2 separate regions of the Homo sapiens genome follow, and region 2 is linked to region 1. Evidence: fine-mapped expression QTL. A gene starts in region 1. The other region holds a variant in brackets. All regions are shown on one strand. Distances are from middle to middle.

The links.
Region 2: its variant is fine-mapped to the expression of FOXJ2 in whole blood (TOPMed, PIP above 0.99).

The regions. Positions count from the first base shown.
Region 1 is chr12:8,029,691-8,035,066 of GRCh38, forward strand. FOXJ2 (forkhead box J2) reads left to right here and starts at 3,026. Exons shown (of 11, transcript NM_018416.3): 1 at 3,026-4,143. RefSeq lists silencers at 2,711-2,860, 2,881-3,120.
Region 2 is chr12:8,052,502-8,057,877 of GRCh38, forward strand. FOXJ2 (forkhead box J2) reads left to right here. Exons shown (of 11, transcript NM_018416.3): 11 at 261-3,016. The coding sequence ends at 349. C3AR1 (complement C3a receptor 1) reads right to left here. Exons shown (of 2, transcript NM_004054.4): 2 at 4,343-5,376. Among named protein-coding and RNA genes, the nearest start is that of C3AR1, 11 kb to the right of the region's middle. The variant A/T (reference allele first, on the strand shown) is at 2,987.

The DNA of each region.
Region 1 (5,376 bases):
AAAAATCCTTCTCCGTATTACCCGCCTTAATAGAAAGTAAAGTGAGAATGAATGTAAGTGCTTCCCCCCAATCTTAGGGCAAAACCATACCAAACCAGCCTTGTCAGTTTCTTTTAATTTTAAAAATTACATAAGCAAATCTACACAAACACTAATTATAGATACATTAAAAAATGAAGTAAATTAAAATAATCCATAAACTCACATCTTTGGTGTGTATCCATCTTCTATGTGTCTATTGGTATGCACACAAATATATGCATGAACATATATATATTTTAAAAAGCAACTATATGATTGCATTATACAAATTTTAAAATATTATTTTCTCACTCAAATAAGTCAGATATATAAAACAATGGTTCTTTAAAATAATGTATGCCTACTGCAAAATATCTAAATGATAAAGAACATTATAAAAATAAAACAACTCCACTCACTCTACCTTTCAGAGATAAATACAATTATTCTTGCAAATGCTAAATAGTACTCTGTTGTACAGATGTGCCATAATATATTTAAAATTACCCTATTTTGGATATTTAGGTCTTTTCTAATTTTCCAGTTACAAAAAATACTGCAGCAAATGTCTTGTAAAAACCAAATAATTTCTTGAGCTTTTTATTTTTCCAAATTGCCAGGAAGATTCTAATCCTTCCCTCATGTTTCCATTTTTAGTACAACTGCCTGTCACTCAAGCCCTCCAATTTCCATACACAGGAAATGTCAAAAACGGTTGAAACATAACAAAACATCTAATACATAGCAAGAAAGATTTGCCGCCAAATTATCTGCGTGTGGGAGAATTATTTAATGCCTCAAAGAGAGGAAAAATACATCTTTAAACCTGAATATAGGAAGTGTGAGCAGGAAGAACAGGCTTGTTTTGGTTTACTGCCTTTAATTTTGAGGATGACTTTAAATTCTGATCGCTCCGGACAATGGTATAGAAGTCAAGAGCTGGGCATCGGAGTCATTTGGATTTAAGTCCTGACTCTGCTACTTACTAATTAAGCGAACTCACACATAGTATCTGTAAGTCACAATTTTCTCATCTGTAAAAGAAGTATAATAATAGTGTCTTAGGGAATCGCTAGAATCATCAATGTGACAACACATGCAGAATGCTCAGTGCAATGCCTGGCATATTGTAAATATAATTATTCATATAATATATACATACAACTTAAGTATGCAGTCTTTTGGGGGCAATTCAAATATTTTGCAAGCAATATTTTTGTATTCGTATTATCTTTTTTTTTTTTTTTTTTTGAGACGGTGTCTCACTGTCTCCCAGGCTGGAGTGCAGCGGCACGATCTGGGCTTACTGCAACCTCCGTCTCCCAGTTTCAAGTGATTCTCCTGCCTCAGCCTCCCAGGTAGCTGGGATTACAGGCACGCACTACCACGCCTGGCTAATTCTTTTTTTTTTTTTTTTTTTTTAGACGGAACCTGGCTCTGTCGCCCAGGCTGGAGTGGAGTGGCGCGGTCTCGGCTCACTGCAACCACCGCTTTCCGGGTTCAAGCGATTCTCCTGCCTTAGCCGGCACTACAGGCGTCCGCCACCGCGCCGGGCTAATTTTTGTATTTTTAGTAGAGACAGGGGTTTCACCACGTTGGCCAGGCTGGTCTCCAATTCCTGACTTCAAGTGATCCCCCCGCCTCGGCCTCCCAAAGCTTTGGGATTACGGGCGTGAGCCACTGCGCCTGGCCTCCTATTATCTTATGTGCTATAAAGTAGAGAGTAGGCCGGGCCGTGTTTCCTGCCTGTAATCCCAGCACTTTGGAGGCATAAAAAGGGAGAATAGTTTAAACCCAGGAATTAAAGACCAGCCTCGGCAGCATACTGAGACCCTGCCTCTATTTAAAAAGAAGAAAAAGATAAAGAAAGAAAGGAAAGAAAGTAGGGTAGTTTGATAAAAGTTTAAAAAGCCTGAGTATGGGCCGGGCGCGGTGGCTCACACCTGTAATCCCAGCACTTTGGGAGGCCGAGGAAGGTGGATCACGAGGTCAGGAGTTCGAGACCAGCCTGGCCAACTTGGTGAAACCCCATCTCTACTAAAAATACAAAAATTAGCCGGGCGTGGTGGCGCGCGCCTGTAATCCCAGCTGCTCCGGAGGCTGAGGCATCCCAGCTGCTGGGGAGGCTGAGACAGAAGAATCGCTTGAACCCGGGAGGCGTAGGTTGCAGTGGGCCCAGATCGTGCCATTGCACTCCAGCCTGGGCAATAAGTGAAACAACACCTCAAAAAAAAAAAAAAAAAAAAAAAAAAAGCCAGAGTATGAAATATATGAGAATTTGCAGCAGAATAATATGACTTCAGGATGTGACAGCTGTAAAGGGTAAGCAGGCCAAGTATCAAGGTCCCTTCTTCGCTGAGCAAGATTGCGGAGAACAAGGGCCATGCACAAGTTTAGGAAGCTGAAACAAGGAACAGGACCCAGATCTTCTGATGTTTATTTCACCGTTACACGCTCATTTATCATGTATCCACTCATTCAAGGAGCATTTACTGAATTCCAGGATGATATAAGGGTAACATATAAACTTCACCCCAATCTTCACCTCAATGCTCATGATCCTTTATAAATTATCTCGAGGGAAAGAGAAGCCCATCAAAGACAGTCCTGAGAAAGCTGGGGCTGTTCATCTGTATACGGAGTTTAACAGAATGAAACGCCGGAGTTGGGGTGTCAGCTGGAATTGACGGTATACGGTGCGCACTAGGGACTCTCCCGACGGGGAGCAGTGAGTTGTCATCCCGGGTAGACGGCGAACTCCCGGAGCCACGCGGCCGCAGGTGGGCGAGGGCGGCGAGATCCCTCGCCGGCGTGAGAGCGGCCGTGGCTCTCCAGGCGGAGCGCACACCGGGTAGCGAGGCTCGCGGCTCGGCGCTGCCCGCGGCTCGGCGTCTCCCGGCTCCTCCTTAACCCGCGCCGGGAGGCGGTGGCGGCAGCGGCCGGCGGGCGGGGGAGGGGGAGGGGCGCGGAGCGCGGCGCGGAGGCCGGGGAGGAGCCGGGGCCTGCAGCGGAGCCGAGCCGAGCCCGAGCCCGCGCCGAGCCCTGACACTGTCTGCCCGCCTTCTGGCTCCCCGGGAGCCCAGACTGGTCGGAGCCCGAGCGGTGGCAGCGCGGGGAGCCCCACGCGCCGAAGGGAGCGGACCCGACAGGACGGCCCTAGAGGAGGTGCTGCCGCCACAGTAGCAGGGACCGGAGTCTCGAGCCGCGGCCTCCCGGACCGTGCTGCCCAGGCCAGCTCAGGGACAGCCGGGAGTACGAAAGCCCCACCCTCTGGGGCACCCCGGGAGCGGAGGCGGGAGCGGGGACGCGAGCAACCTCTCCCCCTGTTGGAGAGAAAAGACCCTTACCACTCGGGTGAGGGAAAGAAGAGACCCCTGGAGGGGACGCCTCTCTCCTGCCTAGAGGCGAGGAAGACCCCTGTACTGGCCGGGGAGGAGACCCCCAGAAGTGGAAAGAAGGGAGCTTTCCGTAGGGAAGCAGAGTGAGACCACCCTAGCGCGCCCCCGCCCCTCCAAACACACACTCTCAACAGTTCAGGACTTTGGAGGCAAAGAGAGACGGGGCTGTGCCTGTGGAGTAGGCACCCTCGGCCCACCACTATTCACAGGAGACAGGAGTCCTTACGTTCAGAAGCCACTCCAGGGAAAGAAGAGGAATCGGCTTTCAGCCTTCTGGAGAGGGGAAGACCTCCCCCTCAACTTCCTCGTGCCTAGACAGTGGAACGGGGTGGAGCCCCTCCGCTCCTATCTCCAGCAGACAGAAAGAGCCCTCCACCTCAGAAAGATCCAGTTTGGGGGGGAGGGGAACTCCCCCAAGGGGGAGGAGACAACTCCTGGTTGGGAGAGGCTCCTCCCCTCCTCCCCCGGGTAACAAGCAGGGTGTGGGGGGTGTGCCACCTTCCCCAAGTAGGACCTCCTTCTCCTCCCCCTCCCCCTCCTCCAACCTTGACTCCTCATCCTCAGGGGACCCAGTTCCCCTCACCAACTTGGGAGGCTCAGCCTCGTCCAGGAAGAGCCACTGAGGATGAGAGCCGTCACCTGCCTCTGAAGAGGGGAATCCCTCCAACCCCAAACTCCAGTACCAGGTGGTTCCCTCCCTTTGCCGGAGGAACCTTGGAGACAGGTTAGTGCTTTCTTTCATCTTCTCTCTGTCATTGTCTGGCACTAGTGGGTGTAGGGGGTTGAGCTGGTGGATCGTGGGTTTCACTGCCGGGGAAGACAGAGTGATGACTCAGAAAATCCAATGGGAAATGTGATCCAAGGGAGCTCCTGGATTTGAACCCACATCTTGCTGCAGAAGCTCTGAGAAATGGGTTTCTTAGTGTTTGGGGACTAAAGGGATGGGATTCATTTTAGGTCCCTTAGGGAAGTGGATGTTTTCATGCTGAGGAAAAGGGTTATCGGAAAACAGCTGCATTTTGAGAACATGCATACTGTGTAGCAGTGATTTACACAACCCAACCAGTGGTAAGATTCCCATACCACCCTTCACCCTTGGGCCTTTTCCCCTGGAGAGTGGGCTGTCATGAAAATCACGGTGGCATCTGGGGTCCTGGCCTTGCCCAGGGCATGCCGAGGTCAGCTTAGTGTTCACCAGAGGTGTTCCCTCCAGCTTACTGCAATTATAGCTCCCTTGACAAGAAAAGCAATCTGTTCCTGCTCATCCTATCTCAGATACCAAGAGGCCTCCTCTCCTGACATTTCCATTCCTAGCTGGATGTATGCCTCTGCCCATAAAATCCAAAGGGAAAATGGGAATCCCACATGTTCTGAGGCGAGAAGAAAGTGTGCAGGGGAATGCCAACTCCCGGGTTAAAGTGCTTCCTTGATGCTGGCCCTGAACCACTGCCCCAGTCCCCTTCTCGACTCCTGTTTTTTGCTCACAATTCTTCAGGAAAAATTAGATCCTGGATACGAAGGGAGGAGGGCTGCTGCTCCGCTTCTGTCCAGACTTCCAGTTAAACAAGTTGACCACTGGAGAGATTTCACTTCTGAGGAGTATATAAAGTTTCCTTCCAGAAAAGTACCTAATAGTCTCATCCTCTCCCTTCCTGTTTCTTGTTCAGTTCTGAGTCCCTCGAACCTTGTGTTAAAGTTTTCCTTCATAAGCTAGGGAATTATCAAAGTCCAGAATCTTCAGAAAAGGCAGGAAAAGGGTACCAGGAAATCCTCCCCTGAAGCCTAGGCTGTTTTTAGGAGAGGTCACTAGCTGGTTGTCTGCTTTCCTGCCTCACCATTAGCAGATACCTTATCTTCTGTCTCACAGCAAGGACAAGTTGTGAAGGAGGCTTCATCTGACTTGGCCTTTCATATTTCCTCCTCTCTCTGGGGCATGGGTGAGGTCTACCTAAATTCC
Region 2 (5,376 bases), 23 kb after region 1:
GCAACTGTGCCTGGCGTCAGAAGTATAATTGTTAATGGCAGCATAATATTTAATTGCTGTGGAATGTAATTTACTCTAGTTTATTTCCTGAGACCTCACTGAAATGGTGACCTGCAACCAAAATTAACTCCAGCTGATAAGGGCGATAGCCTCACAAGGCCTTCTTCGTGGTGTTATCTGGGGCTGAGCACTGTCCTTGTAAATTGAGGGAACAGCTTCCCATCCACTCTCCTTTTACTCTCTTTCTTTCTTTCTAACAGCACACCATATGGTCCCTCGGCCATCAGTGCCACCTCCTGGTGCCAATGAGGAGATCCCTGATGACTTCGACTGGGACTTGATCACTTAGTGCATCACAGAGTGTGGACATCAGCCCAGGGCCGCGTGGTGAAATCTGGCAGTGGGGAAAGAGCAACCCCAGCCCGTCCCTTCCCCCCGTCTGTATATAGACATATATCCTCTTTTTGTTCTTTCTCTGTCAGAGAAGCCACTGCAAGATGCTGCCGAAGATAACCCTCTCTTTCCTGCCTCATTCTTCTCTCTTCCTTCCTGTTTTTTCCTAGTTCTTTTATTATTATTCTTATATTATTATTATTATTATTGGTTATATACTGTCCATAGTCTCCTGTCCCTACATCATGGATCATGTCCACCTTTTGCTAATTTAAAATCATCAGGCTGGAAGATGAAGCCATGATAGCTACAGAGAAAGGTTTTAGACTCCAGTTTACCTTTCTCTTGGAGAAACTCAATGCTAATCCCACCTTTTGGCCCTAAATTGTTTTTTGTTCCCATCAGTTTCAGGCCAGGACTGGAGAGGCCACATTACCAAGTAGAAAGGGTCTGAAACATTACTTGGCAGCCAAGAATTTGGAGGTTTTAAAATGGTGCTAATTCTGTCCTCTGAGGTCTTCCTTGTCCCTTTATACCTTCAATCCTTACTTCTGCCAGTCTGTATTTCCTATCAAGGGTGAAAGTGATGATGGTGGTGCAGGAGGGTGACAATAAAATCCTAGTGGAATTGGAGACCATTGGAAGGGATGGAATATAAGTCAGTGTGAAACTGAGTATACACTGCCATGTTACATCAGTGTCCATTGGCTTGTTTTGAGCCTGTTCTCTAAGAAGATAGGATTGGTTTTAGCCCAAACTCTGCTTCTATGGTAGGGCATGAGGACAACTATTCAGCATGGTTTTAGCTTCTTGGAGATGATTCCAACTTAACTATTTTGGCTTTTTAAACATAATTTTCTCTGAAAATTAATTGTGGCTCTTATTTGCATTTACGAATGATCTTCCCATCCCTTTTTCCCATTCAGCAAATATTAGTTTGTCCTCCTTTAATTGTTTGCCCAAATCTTCCACCCATCTTTTTTCTTCCCTCATTTTCTGGGATTCTCAAGAAAGAAAAAGTAACCCATTATCACTCTGAGTTTCGTCGTGCCCTGAGACATGATGGGAATCTCATTCCCACCTCTCATAGCAGAGCCAAACCTTTAGTGTTGGTGGTAGGAGGATGGGGAGAGGAAAAAAGAGCTGGCAAAGAAATGGATAGGGAATATTTTAGTTCTTTAAATATATAGGCAGATGCTTCTCTTGGAATCCAGATCATCTGGCTGAAGCTTTTGCAAGTAGGCTTTGAGGGGTGAAGGAGATTGGTGGAGGAGAGTAAATAATCTAGAGGCAAGAGTTCAGTGAGGGCCAAGGGGGACCCCCAGAAAAAGGTATGGAGCTAACTCATCTCTTTTACAAGGGGTGGCCATGACTTACTGTTGCAAAGTACTCAGTGTATATTTAATGTTGATTGTTGAATTTTAGTTACGAGAGGGAAGAACAATTTTACTTCTGTCCTTATTTCACTTGCTGAAAAGCTGTGGGACAAAATGTATGGAATAGACAAGGCCACTTTCTTTGTGATTTCTGCTTTTCATGCATATTATTTTATTTACCCATAATTTCCAAGAGGTTTGGCGTTCCGCTCTCCTGCTTTTTTCTTTCATCCACCCCTTTCCTTTTTTTGGAAGGGGGTTATATATGAGAGTTCATTGAAGAAGTCCAGTGAGGCTGAAGTAAAGGGGCAAGATAGGGCAGTTAACTAAAGAGCACTTTATTTCTTTGAAGCCTTTCTAAGAAAGAAATGGGGGTGCGAGTGGCTTGAATCTCCCATGATGTTGGAGGGCACTTAGTGGGGTTGAAGTATGACATAATATTTCCCATTGGGGAAAGGAGAATTTCTCTTAGAGGGTGGCAAAATGCCTTTGCCCAGTGTCCCTATTTTAGGCATCTTTTCCTTCCTTATTCCTTCCAGTCAGGGTGTGTCCTATACAAAACTTCCCATCAGTTCTCCTCAATATTCCCCATTTGTAAATGATCACTTCTCTTTTCTAAACCCTTTTCCTGTTCAGATCCATACAGGATTTGCAAGGGTAGGATCATACATGCAAATGCCCCTTGTTCATCTGTGTCTTCTGCAAACTAGTCTCATGAAGAATTCTGGCGTGCAGCCAGGGTAGCTGAAGTTTGGGTCTGGGACTGGAGATTGGCCATTAGGCCTCCTGAGATTCCAGCTCCCTTCCACCAAGCCCAGTCTTGCTACGTGGCACAGGGCAAACCTGACTCCCTTTGGGCCTCAGTTTCCCCTCCCCTTCATGAAATGAAAAGAATACTACTTTTTCTTGTTGGTCTAGCATTGCTGGACACAAAGTGTAGTCATTATTGTTGTATTGGGTGATGTGTGCAAAACTGCAGAAGCTCACTGCCTATAAGAGGAAATAAGAGAGAAAGTGGAGGAGAGGGACAAAAGGAGTAATTATTTGGTATAGATCCACCCATCCCAACCTTTCTCTCCTCAGTCCCTGCTCCTCATGTTTCTGGTTTGGTGAGTCCTTTGTGCCACCACCCATAATGCTTTGCATTGCTGCATCCTGGGAAGGGGGTATATGGTCTCACAAGTTGTTGTCATTGTTTTTTTGCATGCTTTCTTAAT[A/T]AAAAAAAAAAAAGAATGTTTACAGTTTTATCTTACTGGTAGTGGTCTCAAGTTTCTTTTGGCCAGGGAAGGAAAAGAGAAACGTGAAAGAATTTAGTCTCAGTTCGTCTTTATTCCTCTTCCACCTTCCACCACTGGGTTGAATTAGTTGACCCTGACACGTTTTGTGACCTTGGTGGGAAAGAAGAATCAAAGGCACGTCCTTAACGTGCCTCTTTTCAAATGCTATCAAGTATGATGACATATTGCGGGAGAGTCAGTCACCCCTTGTAGGTTGGTATATGGAGTAGGCCCACCTTGCTTGCATTTTAGGATAGTTTAAAGATTTAAGATATTATACTTTGGGGCTGGGCGTGGTGGCTCATGCCTATAATCCCAGCAGTTTGGGAGGCCGAGGCAGGCAGATCACCTGAGGTCAGGAGTTCGAGCTCAGCCTGACCAACATGGTAAAACCCCGTCTCTACTAAAAACACAAAATTAGCCGGGCGTGGTGGTGCATGCCTGTTATCCCAGCTACTCTGGAGGCTGAGGCAGGAGAATCGTTTGAACCTGGAAGGCGGAGGTTATAGTAAGCCAAGACTGCACTGTTGCACTCCAGCCTGGGTGACAAGAACGAAACTCTCTCTCAAAAAGAAAAGATATTGGTTGGGCGCGGTGGGTCACACCTGTAATCCCAGCACTTTGGGAGGCCGAGGTGGGCAGATCACAAGGTCAGGAGTTCGAGACCAGCCTGGCCAACATGGTGAAACCTCATCTCTACTATAAATACAAAAATTAGCCGGGTGTGGTGGCAGGCGCCTGTAATCCCAGCTACTTGAGAGGCTGAGGCAGAAGAATTGCTTGAACCCGAGAGGTGGAGGTTGCAGTGAGCTGAGATCGTGCCAAGTGTGCCACTGTGCTCTAGCCTGGGCTACAGAGTGATACTTCATCTCAAAAAAAAAAAGAAAAGATATTATACTTTGGACAGGAGCTGTGTTCCCATCTGGGACTTCCTGGAGAAGATACAGTACAAAATAGTTACAGGTACTCACCAGGTTTTCATCAGAAATGAGGGAGCTCTAATTGTAGGAATTTCTTCAGAATACATTTCCAAAGCAAATGGAAAAGAAAAGGAGTCCAGAAATGCTGATTACTCGTTGTACATTAAATCTTTATAACTGCGTCAAGATTATTCACCTTGATATCCTATACACTAACCCCAGGAGTTTAGGTCTTATTCCCAGGGTCTTATGGGATGTGCTGGGGTTTCTGGAAGCCTGGCTAATTGCTATTATAGCAAGTCTATAGTCACTCACTAGGAGACTTATTTGCTGCATATTTAGAGATGTGATATATTCTGAATGTGAAACAAAAGGATTCATAAATCTCTGAGCCTCGCAAGGACCCATGAGAAAAAAAGCATTTATTCATATCAAATATATAAGCAAATTAATATATAAGCTGGAAAGGTAGCACTTCAAATCTTATGTCAGACATTCTTCACAACTGAAAGAATTCCTAGTGATTTGTAATTTTTCTGCATATACTTTATAAAAAATCTGTAGTCCAGACCCTCACCTCAGCCATTGAACAGATAGTGTCTTGCAGGTCTAAAACACATGTCATTTTCTGTTTTTAGACTACATCATTGTATTTGGTTTAGATGAGGCCACGTTGTGATACAAACAAGCCAGAAATTTCAGACGTTTGACACAAACATTTATATATACAGAAAAATGAGAAGGTGGTAGGGAGTTAGGTAATTTTGTTTTAAATGAAAAAGGGACAGAAGGAAAGCTATATAAATGGTTGGAGTGTATAGACAAAGTAGAAGAAAAATATGTGGTCATGAATGAATTAAAATATGGTTATTAATGAATGTTGGGATGCTGGATAAACAAATTAAAAATATGGGGTGCTTGGATAAACATCTTCATCTTTCAAAACAAGAAGTCGTTTTATCATGCCTCCAGAAAAGAGCAGCATAAGCACATGATTTAGAAACATCATGATAATTATCAAAGGAAACATCTAAAATTGTGCAAGGATTATCTCTGGGAAATGAGAGTGGGAGGAGGGAACTTTTGGGCACAGTGAGGTAGGAGACCTCATATTTCATTATATACCTTATTAAATTATTTTAAAACTATGTGCATGTATTACTTTGGCAAAGAAAAGGATTTAAAAAACCCAGAAGATATATTTGGTAATTTTGGCATGTAAGTTGCCTGTCGTCATGTTTTAAAATGTGATGGCAAGCCTGGTAGGGTACTCAGTTGCAGAGAGTAGAAGAATTGCTGCTCCATCCTCCACCCTCTTTCTCCTTCCACTTGAAATACTTTCTTAGAAAGTATTCATTTGGAGCAAGAGGAAGGGAGTAACTAGAATCTTACGAAATTAGAGGTTGTTTG